Linked DNA regions of Homo sapiens. The protein of the gene in region 1 purifies or fractionates together with the protein of each later gene. This does not show direct contact. Each region holds a gene or a part of one and is shown on either strand. Other genes may lie near its edges.

Evidence for each region.
Region 2: the proteins of LRRC52 (region 1) and TPCN1 purify together in Homo sapiens (co-immunoprecipitation; 2 studies listed by BioGRID and IntAct, with this or other methods). This does not show direct contact.

What each region holds. Positions count from the first base shown.
Region 1 is NC_000001.11:165,539,491-165,547,159, forward strand, and holds the start of LRRC52 (leucine-rich repeat-containing protein 52 precursor), read left to right. Parts: upstream 1-4,509; 5' UTR 4,510-4,806; coding exon 4,807-5,428; intron 5,429-7,669. UniProt on the Homo sapiens protein: Auxiliary protein of the large-conductance, voltage and calcium-activated potassium channel (BK alpha).
Region 2 is NC_000012.12:113,287,212-113,294,794, reverse strand, and holds part of TPCN1 (two pore channel protein 1), read right to left. Parts: intron 6,633-7,583; coding exon 6,561-6,632; exon of another isoform or gene 6,301-6,560; coding exon of another isoform or gene 6,297-6,300; exon of another isoform or gene 6,269-6,296; intron 6,199-6,268; exon of another isoform or gene 6,136-6,198; intron 6,038-6,135; coding exon 5,948-6,037; intron 4,668-5,947; coding exon 4,552-4,667; intron 3,844-4,551; coding exon 3,797-3,843; intron 3,273-3,796; exon of another isoform or gene 3,187-3,272; coding exon 3,118-3,186; intron 2,922-3,117; coding exon 2,837-2,921; intron 1,862-2,836; coding exon 1,722-1,861; intron 1,527-1,721; coding exon 1,446-1,526; intron 1-1,445. UniProt on the Homo sapiens protein: Intracellular channel initially characterized as a non-selective Ca(2+)-permeable channel activated by NAADP (nicotinic acid adenine dinucleotide phosphate), it is also a voltage-gated highly-selective Na(+) channel activated directly by PI(3,5)P2 (phosphatidylinositol 3,5-bisphosphate) that senses pH changes and confers electrical excitability to organelles.

The DNA.
Region 1 (7,669 bases):
AAGATGAGGGTCATGCAATATGACTCATTGCGTTGCTGGGAGGATCACATTCTTGACACAGGGTAAATAGTAAATAGTGGCTATCGTGTTTCCTTAAATCACAGGCAATCTATGTAACAACACTGGAAAAGCAATATTCATCATCTCTATTTTACCAAAGAGAAAACCAATGCCCACAGAAGCTAAAATGTGTGCCCAAAGCCACCCACAGAGGAATCTTCTCACTACAAAGCTCACACTGTGCCACAGTTTTCTCTCCCATTCTGAAATCTACAAGTCTCCTATAAAGGGTCCATATTCTCTTCCCAAATCAACTGGGCTTAGACAGCCACCATTATTGGCAGTCTCAAATCAAGTTTCAGGCATAAGGACTGCTACACATAATCTTAGCCATGGGCAACAGTTTATTGATTTGCTATAAGCTGAAAACATGATCTAATTCTGCCCCTAAAAAGGGTATACAATTTACAGGCTTCCCCTTGGATTCCTCTGGACAGTGAATCCTGCAGAAGTATAGAATGCGGATGAAGCCTGGAAATCAAAGATATCCCTGGGGAATGCAACAAATGGGAGTGATTTCCTCTGGCCCTCTGGCCTTTACTCTGTTAGAGTCCAATCTCCCTAGTGGAGACTCCGGCAGCCTGAAGGGAAAAGACAAAAATAGTTTCTACCAGCTGGCACAGCAAACAGAACCAAGGCTCATGAATAGACAGATACACACATATTCAGCCCTTAGGCCTCAGCCTTCCCGGCATGTTTTGGAACTCTTTTTCCACTTTCAGGCTGAACTTTTTGTCCCCAAGCCCCACACCTGCTGAGAGATGAGTTTGCTGAAGAGGGCCCAGGCAGTGTCAAAAGTCTGGAGTGAACTGGATACCATAAGTGGCTCCTACACCAAAGTCCTTGAGACTGTTACATTCTTTAGACCTGAACCCACAACATTCCCTGCCTGGGGAGCAGTTTAACAAAGTACTGACTTGTGTGCCCCTACGTTGCTAACCCCATGTAAGTCCTAAGTTGAGCACATTGGCAGTTTCAATGGAATAAAATGGCATGTGCACTTCCTTCTGCTATTTTTCTCCTGAGAAAATAAAAGCATGCCAAAATTAAATATCCCTTAGCACTTGTACCCAGACAGCTGAGTGGACTATTTACTAGCTAACATTCATGGTCTGCTTTGTAATCGCTTGACTCTGTCTTAGTTGCTTGGGCTTTGACGCTTCAATCATCTGTTCTCTCCCTTCACAACTGAAGTTTGATGGAACTTTAAAACTGGGAAAGCCTTTGGAGAGCGTCCTGTCTTGTTTTACAGAAAGAAAATCAGGGCTTTGAGAGGGCACGATGTCATACTGCCTCAGCTTCTCAATTGTGTTCACTTTGCCCTATATCACCCAGCCTCTTCTTTGTATGATATCAGGGCCTGTGCCCACCTGTCCTTTGGATCACCAGAGAGCTGTTTGGAGGCACACTGGCACCTGAGAGGGATCATTAAGCTGGGAAGACAGTGCCTCCATCAGATACAGCTAAAAATAGGAGCCTGCCTGAGAGCAGAGTCAGCTAGCGCGATTGTATGAGACAGGAGGGGCCTCTCCAAGTGCTCACTTGATGCTTCACCTGTCCTCCTGGAAGGATGGGCACACCAGCTATCCAAGGGGCAGGGGCAGGCTAATAAAACAGCCACACACACGAAGGGCGACCATGCTGCATCTGAAGCTGCATGAGCCGCTCACTGGGTAGAGAGATTGTCCTTTTTGCAGCCACATGATAGGTGGGACTATATGGTGTGATTAGAAGGAGTAGAAAGGCGGCCGGGCATAGTGGCTCACGCCTGTAATCCCAGCACTTTGGGAGGCCGAGGCGGGTAGATCACGAGGTCAGGAATTTGAGATCAGCCTGGCCAACATGGTGAAACCCTGTCCCTACTAAAAATACAAAAATTAGCTGGGTGTGGTGGCGCACATCTGTAATCCCAGCTACTCGGGGGGCTGAGGCAGGAGAATCACTTGAACCTGGGAGGCAGAGGTTGCAGTGAGTCAAGATAACACCACTGCACTCTACTAAAAATACCAAAAAAAATTAGCTGGGCATGGTGGTGGGGGCCTGTAATCCCAGCTACTTGGGAGGCTGAGCAAGAAGAATAGCTTGAACCTGGGAGGCAGAGGTTGCAGTGAGCCAAGATCGTGCCATTGCACTCCAGCCTCTACTGGTTTGCTGGGTGATGCCTGAAACCTTTCCATTATGAAGGAATTTGGAAGTCCTAAAGACACTTGGAAATTATCTACTTCATTTCCCTCAATATGTAGATGACAGAAATAAAGCCCAGAGAAATTAAGCACCTCAACCAAGAACAAACAGCCTAGTCTAGGACTTCCCAAAGCAGGATTTCTGAAATAATAGTTTCACAAGTTGTTCTTTGAAAACAAAATTTATTTAAGGTTCTGAAATCAGGTAATTCAAGCAATGCTACATTCTCTTTTCTTTGTCTAGTCTGCTTCTTCTTTATCGAACATATATTTATTCAGTCTCAAAATGAGGTACACACTTTAGAGATGTGGTCTAACCTGGCAAAGCTGAAACTAGCCCATGAGTGTCCAGGTTTCAGGACCAAAAACAATACAGCTACCTCAAACAAAAAGAATATTCCCTGAGGTTAAACCACTCATAGTGCTTTGTGAAAATGGTAATACTCCAGAGCCAGGCATAGCTGACTGGTGTCAGTCAATAACCTTTAGCATGATATATTTACCTAAGGCTTTTCTAAGCAGAGCACTTGTAACCATACGGCCAAACAGGTAGGCCTAATCCTGAGACTACTATCTTGAGAAAGCTAGTATGGATAATGAGGCTGGAAATGAAGTAGGGCAACCTGGAGATGGGGCCGTCTGAGGGGAAGAAGTCAGAAAGAGGGAGAATGGCATAAAAGAAAAGGTGACACGTCAGCAAAATCACTCCATGAGCTTTGGCGAGTGAATCAGTGATCATTTCTCATGGAAAGGAAGCAGACAACAAACACAGCCCTTCCAAACAAAGTATCCCTGCCACACTCCACCAGCAAAACACACCCTCGCCACAGCTCCCAGAGCAGTCACTTTGGAAATTAATTCTTTTCTATAGACTTCATGTGCTAGATTTCTCTCCTCGGCAATCACATAAGATCTAGAAAGGAACTTATATTTTAATAGAATTTGTTTTAATTATGAGGAAAGGGTGTCTGCCCTATCAATTAAGTCATGCTTCAATTAGTACAGCTATCATTGGGGTCATTACTTTAAGTATTTGAAATGTCTACTTAAATAAGGTCACTTTCAATTTGGTAAACACGCCTAAGTCATCATATTAATTCACAGCCAGTCACCCAAGGAATGCTGAGTAAGTAAACAATCAAGCATTAGCTAACTAGCCACAAATCCATCTGACTTTATTAATTTCTCTCTTGGCAAAGAAGCAAGAGAAGGAAGCAAACCATCAGAAACATTCTCACATTGTTCATTCACTATACATTTATTACATACCAGGTGCCAGGCACTGTGCTTAGGTTTCAATATGTTACTAATATTCACAACTCAGTATATATGAATGTTTTTAAAAAATGAAATCCAATTTTCCCAAAAATAAAAGTTTCAACTCCTCAGATGTTTTATCTTATTTCTGCCTGATATGCCTTCCTCCACGGGGTGTGTGATACATCCCAACTCTTCAGCTTCCAGGTTTTCTATCCCTCGCTCCAAAAGACTAATCACCTGACAAGTAATTAATGAATATAAACTCACACTAGAAGTACTAGAGAGGCACTCACTATTTTAAAAGTCCTAGGAGAATACGAGTGGTAAAAAAATACTTCTATTGTTGCACTCAGATTTTTTATATATACATTTGGGTTTTGTGTTAGAAGGAGTAGCTTACACTTATTCAAAAACTTTTTAAAAATACACATATATATATATTCAAAATGCAGACAGAGATGTATACATCCTAGGAATAAAGTCTGAAAAGAGTACCACTTTATCAGAGGAATTCCCCTTGCCTCATTTCAAAAGAAACACCCCCTTTCCCATCTTCTTCTGGCAACACTGAAAAACTGGCACCCATCCAAATCAATATCCAAGAAAAGACCCACACTGAGAACTGACCTCAAGCAAGTCACTGCTCATCACTAAGAAAAGGAGTTGGCCTGGAGATGTCCCATGTTCCCTCTATGGCCTGCAGATTAGGGGGTCCAATGTCACCTAATCTACTACAGCTCCATGGGGAGCGGGTACAGATACTATACACATCCACACACTGAACCCAGCCTGGTCTCCAACACACACATGCTGCAGGCCCCTACCCATGAGGCCCCAACTCCCCCAGGGAGTTCCAGCTGGCTTACCAAGACACATAAAACACCCTCACACCACCCAGAAGGAGAGGTGAGGAATCTCTTTCCCTCAGCCAGGCAGTCTCCTGAGGCTGCTGACATCACAAAGGTGTCAACTGGCAACCTCATTGTCATGTGGCTCTCCCCTGGCTCCCCTTCACTTGCAAACGCAGGGAAAGGGTGAGACCTTTCAAAGCTGCCAAGTGGGCAAGCTTCCAGCAGCAGTCTGGGAGCGAGCGACAGAGCCACCAAGCTGGGCGGCAGGGCATTGAGCCTCGCGTTTCAATTTCTGTTCAGTTCTCCTGTAATGGAAAATTGCTTTGCACAAAGCTAAAGTGTTACAGTTCTTTCCAGAGCCCCTCCCCCGCCCCACCCCCCCACCGGCAGCCTTCGGATCAGAGGACAGAGCCCGCAGGAAGGTGAAAGGAGGGTGGTTGTGGCTTCTTACTATGTCCCTTGCTTCAGGCCCTGGCCCTGGGTGGTTACTCTTTTCCTTTGGAATGGGGCTGGTATCAGGGTCAAAGTGTCCAAATAATTGTCTGTGTCAAGCCCAAGAAGTAATCTGCACAGGGAAGCAGTTAACCGAATACCCCCTTGACATACCCCTGAACACCCGGAGGCTGTTCCTGAACGAGAACAGAATCACTAGTTTGCCAGCAATGCATCTAGGACTCCTCAGTGACCTTGTTTATTTGGACTGTCAGAACAACCGGATTCGAGAGGTGATGGATTATACCTTCATCGGGGTCTTCAAACTCATCTACCTTGACCTCAGCTCCAACAACCTAACCTCGATCTCCCCATTCACTTTCTCGGTGCTCAGCAACCTGGTGCAGCTGAACATTGCCAACAACCCTCACCTGTTATCGCTTCACAAGTTCACCTTTGCCAACACCACCTCTTTGAGGTACCTGGACCTCAGAAATACCGGCTTGCAGACCCTGGACAGTGCTGCCTTATACCACCTCACTACTCTGGAGACCCTGTTTCTGAGTGGAAACCCCTGGAAGTGCAACTGCTCTTTCCTGGACTTCGCCATCTTCTTAATAGTGTTCCATATGGACCCCTCAGGTGAGGGCTTGATTGGGTGTGGGGAAGAGGATGTGATTGAAGTGGCTCCAGAAAAGGTGAACTCAAAAGATGGTCAGAATGGGAGAAAAAGTTGGGTGAAGCTGATTGAATGCATTCTTATTACTCTGCAGGGCCCACCCTTGGGTTGACTGGAGTAGCAGTAAGAAAAAGTTCTGAAATAGGAATTCAAAGAGCTGAGTTCTGGTCCCAAACTCAGCACTTACCAGTTGGCTACCCTTGAAAATGTCACCATTTCTCTGAGCCTCAGTTTTCTAATCCATAAAGTGGGGACAATAATATTACCTAAGGCACAGAGTTGCATCAAATATATGATGTGTGTAGAAATGATGAAGTACTCTAATTGCAAAGTGACAAGGTAATATAGGGACACTGTATTCTGTTGGTAAACTGTTTTAATCTGTTTAATTCAGCAACTGAATTTTTCCAGGATCAAAAAGTAAATTCAGTCATTCATATAGGATTATGATATATAGAAAGGAAAGTTTAACATAAAGATGGAAGGAGGGGCACGTGAGCTACCCAGACAGTGAGAGAGGGAGGGAAGAAGGAAGAAAGGGCTTTTGATAGCTGCTTTGTTTTGAAGATGCTGGCCTCCTATGGAAGGAGAGAATGGCATGAATCAATGGAGAAAGGGTCCAGTGCTCACTGTGTCAAGCAGAGAGATTCTAGTCTTACAGGTAGATAGATGCTCAGCTCTTACCTGGGAGATTTCCAAGCTCCTTGCCACCACTCTACCCGCTGTCCTCACCCGGCCTGCCACGGCCCCTGTGCTTCATTCCCTCTTTATCTTAGGGACTTTACTGTCTCATCCTTACCCTCCAATTCTTCTCTCCACCAATAATAGCATTTTTACCCAGGAAAGTCAGAGCTTCAGAAAAATGAGAAATAACTCCTCACAGAAAGTCTGGAGCCACTGATGTAATCCGGCAAAATTGGACTCTGGGTAGAAAATCAAATCCTGTCAAAACCATGTAGTTTCTGTCTTCCCTGGGTGTTTGCCTTTGAAAACGTTTTCATAGACGCAGCTTCATAAAACTCCTGCTGAAACTTCCACCATGAAGTACTGCCCAGGTGGCAATATGCTAGAAATAATCCTGGCCAGAATGACAGACTTCAAGGAGAACTGGGGGAGAGAGAATCAAGTGGTGACAGTAAGTAAAAAACGTGCCCTCCTGGCTTCCCAATGGGTGTGTCTCAAAAAGTCCTCCTGGCAGAGTCTGGACTGGGATGAGGCAAGCAGGGCTTTTAGGAGGCAAAATTTAAGGAGGCACTGAGAGCGAGTGCACTGAGAATAAGACATTGTGAGTCAGTGCCTCCTTAAATGTTGTGCCTTAGACACCTGACCCTACTGCCAGATACCTCAACTTGAGTTGTTAGAATAAATCAAAAGAAACTAACTTTGTCAGACCATCTTCCAACAGGACTAGAATGCAGAAGCAGTTATCTCAGGTAGGTTGCCTTGCCTCTCTATAACACCAACTCTAGGAGGCAGAGATAATGTTTTCTACTTTTCTCCAAAACTGTGATAGTGTCTAGAAAGCACTATCAAAGAGGTTCAATATTAATCATCCTCATGCATGACCTGTGGTCCATAAAGGGGATTCTCCCCTGTCCATGTTCCTGTAAATTAGCCTGTGGAAGGGTGTCATCTTCTTTTGCCCCTCCCCACCATACATGCACTTTTCCTTGAGTATAGCCCATCAGGTTGCAAGTGGGACCTCCCACCCCAGATGACAAGAGTAACATAGCTTGGCTTCCACCCCAGCACCTAAGCCTACCATTTCACCTCCCACTCCATCTCCCTTCATCAGATTTCTGCTTGCACAGTTGTATCTTCTCAGAATTTTCAGGCTGACCACTTTGGACTCCTTGACTCTTCAGTTCAATCCACAGTTGAATGGGATTATAAAGTAGATCTTTTTCACCGCATATTTTCCAAGACATCAGAAAGGAGTGTCTATCTTGTCAAGATTATAAGCTCCTCATGAATGAAGAGTCTGTTTTGTGAGGTAGACAAAGCTTTCATCCCCCAGCCGTGGGACCCCACACACGTACCCACAACTGCTAATTTGCTCATCTCCCTCCATTTTTCCACACATGGTACCTCATTTCCTTTAGCATGAGTGTCACACCAACACTTAAACTTGTGCCCTCAGCCTGTGGAAGAGTCTAGGATTGGTATTTTTAACCCTATCCTTGGATGAGAAAATAGACTCACCT
Region 2 (7,583 bases), on another chromosome or scaffold:
GACTCTGCAGGGCTCATGGGCTGGTGGCCCATGGTCTGGAAGGCACCGTGCCAAATGCCAGCCCACACGGTGCTTTGTGAGATATTTTCCTTAGCTGCCAATATGTAAAGATTGGGAGGTCATGCAAAAAAAGAAAAACATCTGATTCTGCCTTTTTTTTTTTTTTTTGAGACAGAGTCTAGCTCTGTCACCCAAGCTGGAGTGCAGTGGCATGATCTTGGCTCACTGCAACCTCTGCCTCCTGGAGTCAAGTAATTCTCCTGACTCAGCCTCTTCAGTAGCTGGGATTACAGGTGCACGGAACCAGGCCTGGCTAAATTTTGTAATTTTAGTAGAGACAGGGTTTCACCATGTTGGCCAGGCTGGTCTCGAGCTCCTGGCATCAAGTGATCCGCCTGCCTTGGCCTCCCAAAGTGCTGGGATTACAGGCATGAGCCACCATGCCTGGCCTGCCTTTTCTTAAATTAGAAGCCAAGGTGGAAGAATTGCTTGAGACCAGGAGTTTGAGACCCCAGCAAGACCTCACTGCTACAAAAATAAGGTAATTAGGGTGTCACAGTGCACACCTGTAGTTCCAGCTGCTTGGGTAGGCTGAGTGGGGAGGATCACTTGAGCCCAGGGGTTGGAGGCTACAGTGAGCTATGATCACGCCACTGGACTCCAGCCCAGGTGACAGAGCGATACCATCTCTAAAACAAAACAAAACAAAAAACACCCAATTATGAAAAATCCCAAGCACTCCCAGCCTGGCCAACATGGTGAAACCCCGTCTCCACTAAATATACAAAAATTAGCCAGGTGTGGTGGCGTGTGCCTGTAATCCCAGCTACTCGGGAGGCTGAGGCAGGAGAATCGCTTGAACCCAGGAGGCGGAGGTTGCAGTGAGCCTAGATCGTGCTGCTGCACTCCAGCCTGGGAGACAGAGCGAGACTCCATCTCAAAACAAAACACCAAGCAGCCCGACCGCAGTAGGGCCTTCTTCCTATTGGGCAGCACTCGCTGGGGCTGGGAGGAGGCTGTGTCCCCTTTGGACAGGCACATCCTGGAGCTGGGAGGAGACTGTCTCCTTTGGACAGGGACATCCTTGCCAGTTCACCACGGTCGCCGCTCTTTCCTCTTTGCTCACTGTGTTTCTTAGTACACATGTTTGAGTTTGCAGCTGACTCAGAGTAAGAGATGGAGAGGAGGTTCTGGAGAATTCATAAGGGGCAGGGACATATGGCGGCAGGCAGGCTGGAGAGCTGCCTCTGCTGGGCACGAGTCAAGGGTTCAAGGCTAAGTGAGCCCCGCTCAGGTCCCACACAACCCCAGCAGTGGTCCCGATGGACGGTCTGCATCTCTCTACCAGCCTTCTCCCTCTACTCAGAGGGCCAGAGAGCAGCTCCCTGCCCCTCCCAGGACATAGCTTGGGGGAGGATTCGCAGCGTGGTCGGCCAGGCTCCTACCTGGATCTCCTCCTGGTACATCTTCAGGCTCAGGTCGCTCTTGGTCCTTGATCGCCGTCCCAGAAACACCATGGAATGTTGCTAAGGAAGAGCAGAGGCTGCAGGGCTCGGCTGCAGATATTCAGGTCCCACCCCTGGTGCCACAGTTGGCGTCTCCCACTTCTCTGGCTTTTGCAACTGTGTCACTCAAAATGTTACCAATATCTGAGGGAAGGGATTATGCCACCCACACTGAAACCTGCCTCCCTCCTTCGGACCAGGGCCTGGGCTCCTCACCTGGTATCTCTCCATCTGGGAGAGGGTCTCCAGCAGCCTGGTGACATCCGAGGAGGCCCCCCGTGCCTCCCGGTAGAGCTCCAGGACGGCAACCAGCTCTTCTTTGGAGATTTCCTTCTCAAGGGTGATGCCACCATCAACTGCAGGGATGGAAGGCAGGTGTGGGAAGGGCCCGGGGCTGCAGCTGCCAACCTGGCTGGGTCTCGTACCTCCTTGCCCCCTTCCGCAGGGGGTCTTAAGGTTCTCTCTCTAAACCGACACTGCATTGGTGTCCTGCTCTCCTCGTTGGCCCTCCTTTCCCTTCCCCTCCCTCTGCTGTGATGTCAGGAGCGCAGGTCTAGCTGGCAGCTGTTACAGGGCCAGAGGGTTTCAGGAAGGGGCCTCTAAGCACAGAGAAAATGGTCAGATGGTCTGATAGCACAGAGATCTGAGGATGAGAGGTAACAAGTGTGGGCACAGGGTTTTCTGTTTCTTTTAAGAGACAGGGTCTCACTCCGCTGCCCAGGCTGGAGTGCAGTGGTGTGATCATGGCTCACTGCAGTCTTGACCTCCTGGGCTCAAGAGATCAAGTGCAGACAGTTTTGATGGAGAATTTGGGAAGAAGGGAGGGTCAGCACACAGAAAGCTGTGCAATCTGGGAAGAGTGAGGCAGTCACTAAAGCCAGCACCATCCAGTTGCAGCAGGAATACGATTCGCCTGTGCCATAAGCAATATTTACACCATTTAAATCAAGAACCGTAGTGTGAACCTATTATTGAGAAACGTGGAGATGACTAACAGAAGAAATAGCCAAGAAGGAGAAGCCTCTGGAGGACGGGAGGGAAAGGCAGGGCAGGGGCTGCTGCTGCCACATAAGCCTTTCTCTACTTCTTGATTTTTCTCCAACTATGACATGCTCTGTCTTATTTTAAAGTTAGATTACGTTTTCTGACATTAAATATTTGAAAATCAATGCAAATACAAGATCTAGAAAGACAAGCCAGATAGATAAGCTGGACAGCCAGACAGCAGAAAAATGACAGCCTGATGGCTGGCTGGACAGCCACCCAGACAGACAGACAGAGCTGGGTAGGCGGCAGATATCAAATGCCCAAGGCATCATCCCTGCACAGACCTTCCGAGTCCTGGTTCTTGCGGCTGTAGTTCATTCGGAAGACGAAGGCCTCGAGGATAAAGGCGACAATGATCGTCATCACCACCTGGCCAGGGATAGGGAGGGAGGGGCAGAGGCAGGGGAGGAGGGTGGGTAGGTGTCCGTGGCTGCGCAGCCCACGCCCAACAGAGTCCGGCCAGATGGGACCCAGCCCCACTCCCTGACGCTGCAGGCTGAAGAGCAGGGGCAGCTGGTGATGTGGAAGACGAAGGACAAAGAGCGTTCTGTGGTCCGGGACCTACCATGGTCACAATGTAAAAGGTCATGAAGTAGAGGCGGCTCCAGTGGGAGGTCTGAGAGGTGACGCCTTCCTGGAGACCAAGGGAAGCAGCCAGTGAGGGGGTGCCCATGCAGGGCAGGTCCCCGTCTACACAGGCTGCTCCATGGCCCCGGCTCTTCGCAGACCCCACCGTGATTTGTGGCTGGTTGTGAGAGATGGAGGAGAGGAAGCTTGCCCCTCTGGGCCTAACACTAATTCCTGACTGCTGAAGGAGCCCTGGCCACTCCCCTGGACGACTGGATCCAGAACCAGGGCAGCCTTTATCCCAGTAGGGCTGGGAGTCGGGAAAGTTTAAGGAATGGAATAAAGAGATCAGCAATGCTCGCCACTTTGTCACTAGAGGGAAAAGTCATCTCTACAGTGGGCGAGACAGGACAGAGACCCAGAGTCTAAGTGGCATCTCCTGGCTGCTGGGGACATGCAGGGAGATGGGAGTAACAGCCGAGTCCAGCCAACACTGGGAGGGGTGGCTCCTGGGGCCCAGCCATCCTGTGGCCTCCCCACTGAACACCAACACAGCATGACTCAAGACCCCCAGCCCTGCAAGCTACGGGAAGAATTATATACTCTGGGTTGGGGGAGACCCAGGGCCGACCCCAGGGCTGGCGGGAAGATACCCCCAGAGCTGCCCGAGCTCTTACCATGATGATGTACCAGTTGTTGACAACTGTGAGCTCAAACAGGGTCACTGCCGAGGGAAGAGAGAAAGAAGCATCCTGATGAGACCCCACTTCAAAGTCAATTTCAAGTGGCCTCTTGCCACCTATCCTGGGTGCCATGTGCTAAGATGAGAGGGTCACCATATGACCGCTTGGGTTGTGAGCTCCAGGAAAGACCAGGCAAGGCACTCCTAGGGCGCTGGCTCCACAGGACATCATGGCCTGCCCCCAAGAGAACACACCCTCTGCCTCAGCAGCCTGTGCCACATCAGACTATCTGGATCTTACTGGGTGCAGATCTGGGGTGTCATGGGGGCACACCCTTTTTCTGGAGAGGCGGTTTGGCTGTGTTCGCCTCTTCATGGGAGTGGGCAGAGGGCTGTGTGCAGTCTGAGCCAGGGGGCAGTGCAGCTGCAGCAGCAGTGGTGTGGCTGGGTCCCATTCTGCAAGTGGCACTGTGATGAGGGGACCCCGCCCAGCTAAGGCTTGCAACTCTTGTCCTCCCCGGTACTGAGAAAATATCAGGAAAGAGTGGAATCAGGCAACTGAGTGAGCTCCAGGATCCAGCCTGGACTGTACTGCCAAAGCTGGGCAGACCAAGTCCTCCACCTGGGCCAGGGAGGCTTCCAGAAAGTGTGGCCCAGACACTTGCTACACCACCTCTGGGACCCGTGGTGACAAGGGTGACAAGGGTGGGGTCCCCAGGGAATGTGCCCCCTGTGATTTTTCCCACTCACCAAAGCTGTTGAGGATGTTGTCAAAATTATTGAGATAATAGTAGCCTTCCTCCACCACGGTCCTGTTGCCCACGGTGTGGTTGCGCCAGCGGTAGGCATCTGCCACTGTACTCGTGCTGGCCGGAGCACAAGGGAGAAAGGAGGGAGGGTCACAAGGCGATCAGTCACCTCCAGAGAGGACAGAAGTCTGAAACAAACCGAGTTCTGGCCAAGGATCCTTCTGTTCTGCCCGCAGCCTGGTTTCCTGCCTAACCCTCTCCACCTCATGCCTGGGTCCCTGCTGAAGGAATGCCCTTGGCTATTCCTGCCTGCTGGGCTTGGCGGGATCCCCTGGCCAGCCTGACCCACCTCTGTCACCTGGAAGTTGTCTGCTGCAGGCAGGGCCTTCTCTCTCACCGTTGCTTGCAGGGGAGGGAGGAGAGGCAAGGGCCTCCTCTGCACCTGCCCCATCTAGGATCTGCTCTTGAGGCTGGACACTAGGCCACAGTCCCAGGGAAGGAATTCCCTACTGGGGCTTCCCCAATACTTGGCCTGAGCAAGTATTTGAAAAGGTTGGCCCTGTTTTGAGGAGCTCTTATTTGCCACTTTCCTTCCAATCTTTTATGGCTGTTCTGTTAATATCCATGCTAATGTTTATAAAAGTCTAGTGCTTGGGCCACCAGGGAGCCTCCTCCCACACGCATGCATCAGACACAAGAGTGAGGTCTGGAGCTTGCACTAAGCTCCCTGGTGACTGCAATGGGCTCTAAAGTCTGGGACCCACTGCTATAGGCTTCTGGTTCCAGACCAAGCTTGACACTCAAACTGGGTCTCAAAGCTACCAGTGTCTTTGTAAAACTGTTTCTTCATCGGTGCTTGAGGCTGTAAAGACCAAATGTAAGAGGACTCTCTGAATTGAGGATGAATGAATGGCAGTGTGCAGTGATTTCACTGTGGCGGCTCAGGAGAAAGGGAGTGCTCATGGGAGATTTCACTCTCTGCTCCCCATCCCTGAGCACCATGACCTTCCTGCACGTGTCCGTCTGTCTTATCCTACGATGCTGTCCCTAGAAGACTGGTCTTGGCCCAGGTCCCCAGCCACTCCAGGAGAGAAGTGGGAGGAAGCCATGGGACTTGACCTTGGGACCCAGGCTACTGTGGGGGTGGCCTCCAGCCCTCGGCAGAGGGTGAGCTGACAGCTCCCAACCCTGCCTGGGGGATGGAGAAACAGGGACCCCGAGTCCAGGCCCCTCATTTAGCTCACTGCACTCAACTAAGCCCTGAAAGCAAAGCAAGGTGGTTGCTTAGACAGGAACATCCCCGAGGACCCCAAGGCCACAAGGACACCAATCCTGGCCCTGGCCAGCCCTCTGCCCGGGAAATGCAGGCTGCCTGGGGCTGGGTGGGGCCTACTCACTTGCAGCAGTTGGGGAAGACGATCCCGCAGAAGAACTCCATGCCCACGATGGCGAAGGAGTAGTAAAAGATGAGCAGGGTGAGGCCCAGGCTGTGGGGCGACAGGGGCAGGGTGACGCGGGGCCGGCAGGAGGGAACGGCTCCTCTGCAGCCCCGGCCTCCTCGGACCCGTGGGGCTGACTGCAGGGCCATGCCCCTGGTCGGTTCACCAACTGGAAAGTGCCTGCGGGGAAGGGGCCTCGTGGGGCAGCTCTGGGGTGAAAAACAGCTCAAGTCAGGACGCTATGAACAAATGCCCCTTTCCCAGAGATTCACCCCTTACCTGTGAAGGTAGACTCACAGGTGACCCCTTACCTGTGAATGTAGACACAGGTGGTAAGCGAGTTGACAGCTCCCTGCCCTCCCTACTAAATATGTCAGACAGGTCAGTGGAGAAAAATGGTGCCCAGGAGACCTGTGGTGGTCAAGATTCCAGGCTCCTTGGAGCCCCGTCAGGCCCTCGATTGCAGTCCTTTGTGGAACTCCTTTCCCCCGACTGCCACTCGGCTCCCGCCCCCACGGGGCACTGCCACACGGCACCTGGACCTGCAGGCCAGGGTGGGGGCTGGCAGTACCTGGCCATCCGGGGCAGCAGCTCGAACATGGTGTCCAGCACGTTGCGGTAGCGCTCCTTCAACTTAAACAACCTGAGCGAGGAGGACACCCGTCACCTCCACACACAGGTGCACGCCTCAGCCCCCGCCCTCAGAACATGCCGGCCCCGCCTTCCACACGCCATGCGGTGAAGACAGGTGAGGGCCTCTCCTCCACCTGCGTCCACTCCCTTGGGCGCCACCAACCCTGAGCTGGGCTCAGGTGATTCATGCATGAGGGAAGGGATGGTGGCAGCCCCAGGACACCGGCTGGGCGGGGTCCTTCCACGAAGAGGAGCAGGGCCAGGCCACATCTCCTTGCAGTAGAGCTGCAGGCTCAGACAGGAGCAAGGCCTTGCTCCTGGGAAAGAGCGGGGAGAAGCCCATGTGCCCCGGGGAGCGGGGGCAATGGAGCTCACCAGTGAAGAAGGGTGGCAGGGGGCGGGACGGAGGCGGACACTCAGGAGCAGCCCCAGGCCACCCCCACACGCCAAGGGGGTAGGCTTTTCCTCCATAGACGCCACCACCCCTCCCCGCACCTGCCCCGCCTGTCCCGCCTTGGGAGAGGATGGGGCGGACGTGGATGGGGTTGCAGCTGGAGGGTCAGGAGGCAAGCCCAGGCTCTGAGGGCACAGGACCTCGGGACCCCTCATTAGGAAGAGACACCGTCAGTGGGGCAGGCTCGTCTGGGACTTTCTCCAGTGTCCCTGGGAAACCAGTGGGACCCACACGAGGGTTTTTCTCCATAAGACGCTGAGCCAGAAAAGCACGCAGGGCCCCTGAAAGGCCCTTCCAACCCTCAGACCTGTGGCTCTGTGATCTGTGACTTGAGCATATGGGCTCCTGTCGCTGGTGCAATGCCACCTCAGGTGGGGTGCACATGAGTCATGGGCTGGGTTTCTCTGCCCAGAGGCACCTGGTGCAGTGAGGGGAAGGGCACAGGCAGCCTGCACACCCTCAGGGGTGGGGATGTTGACCCCATGGTGATTCTCCAGGGGGTGACAT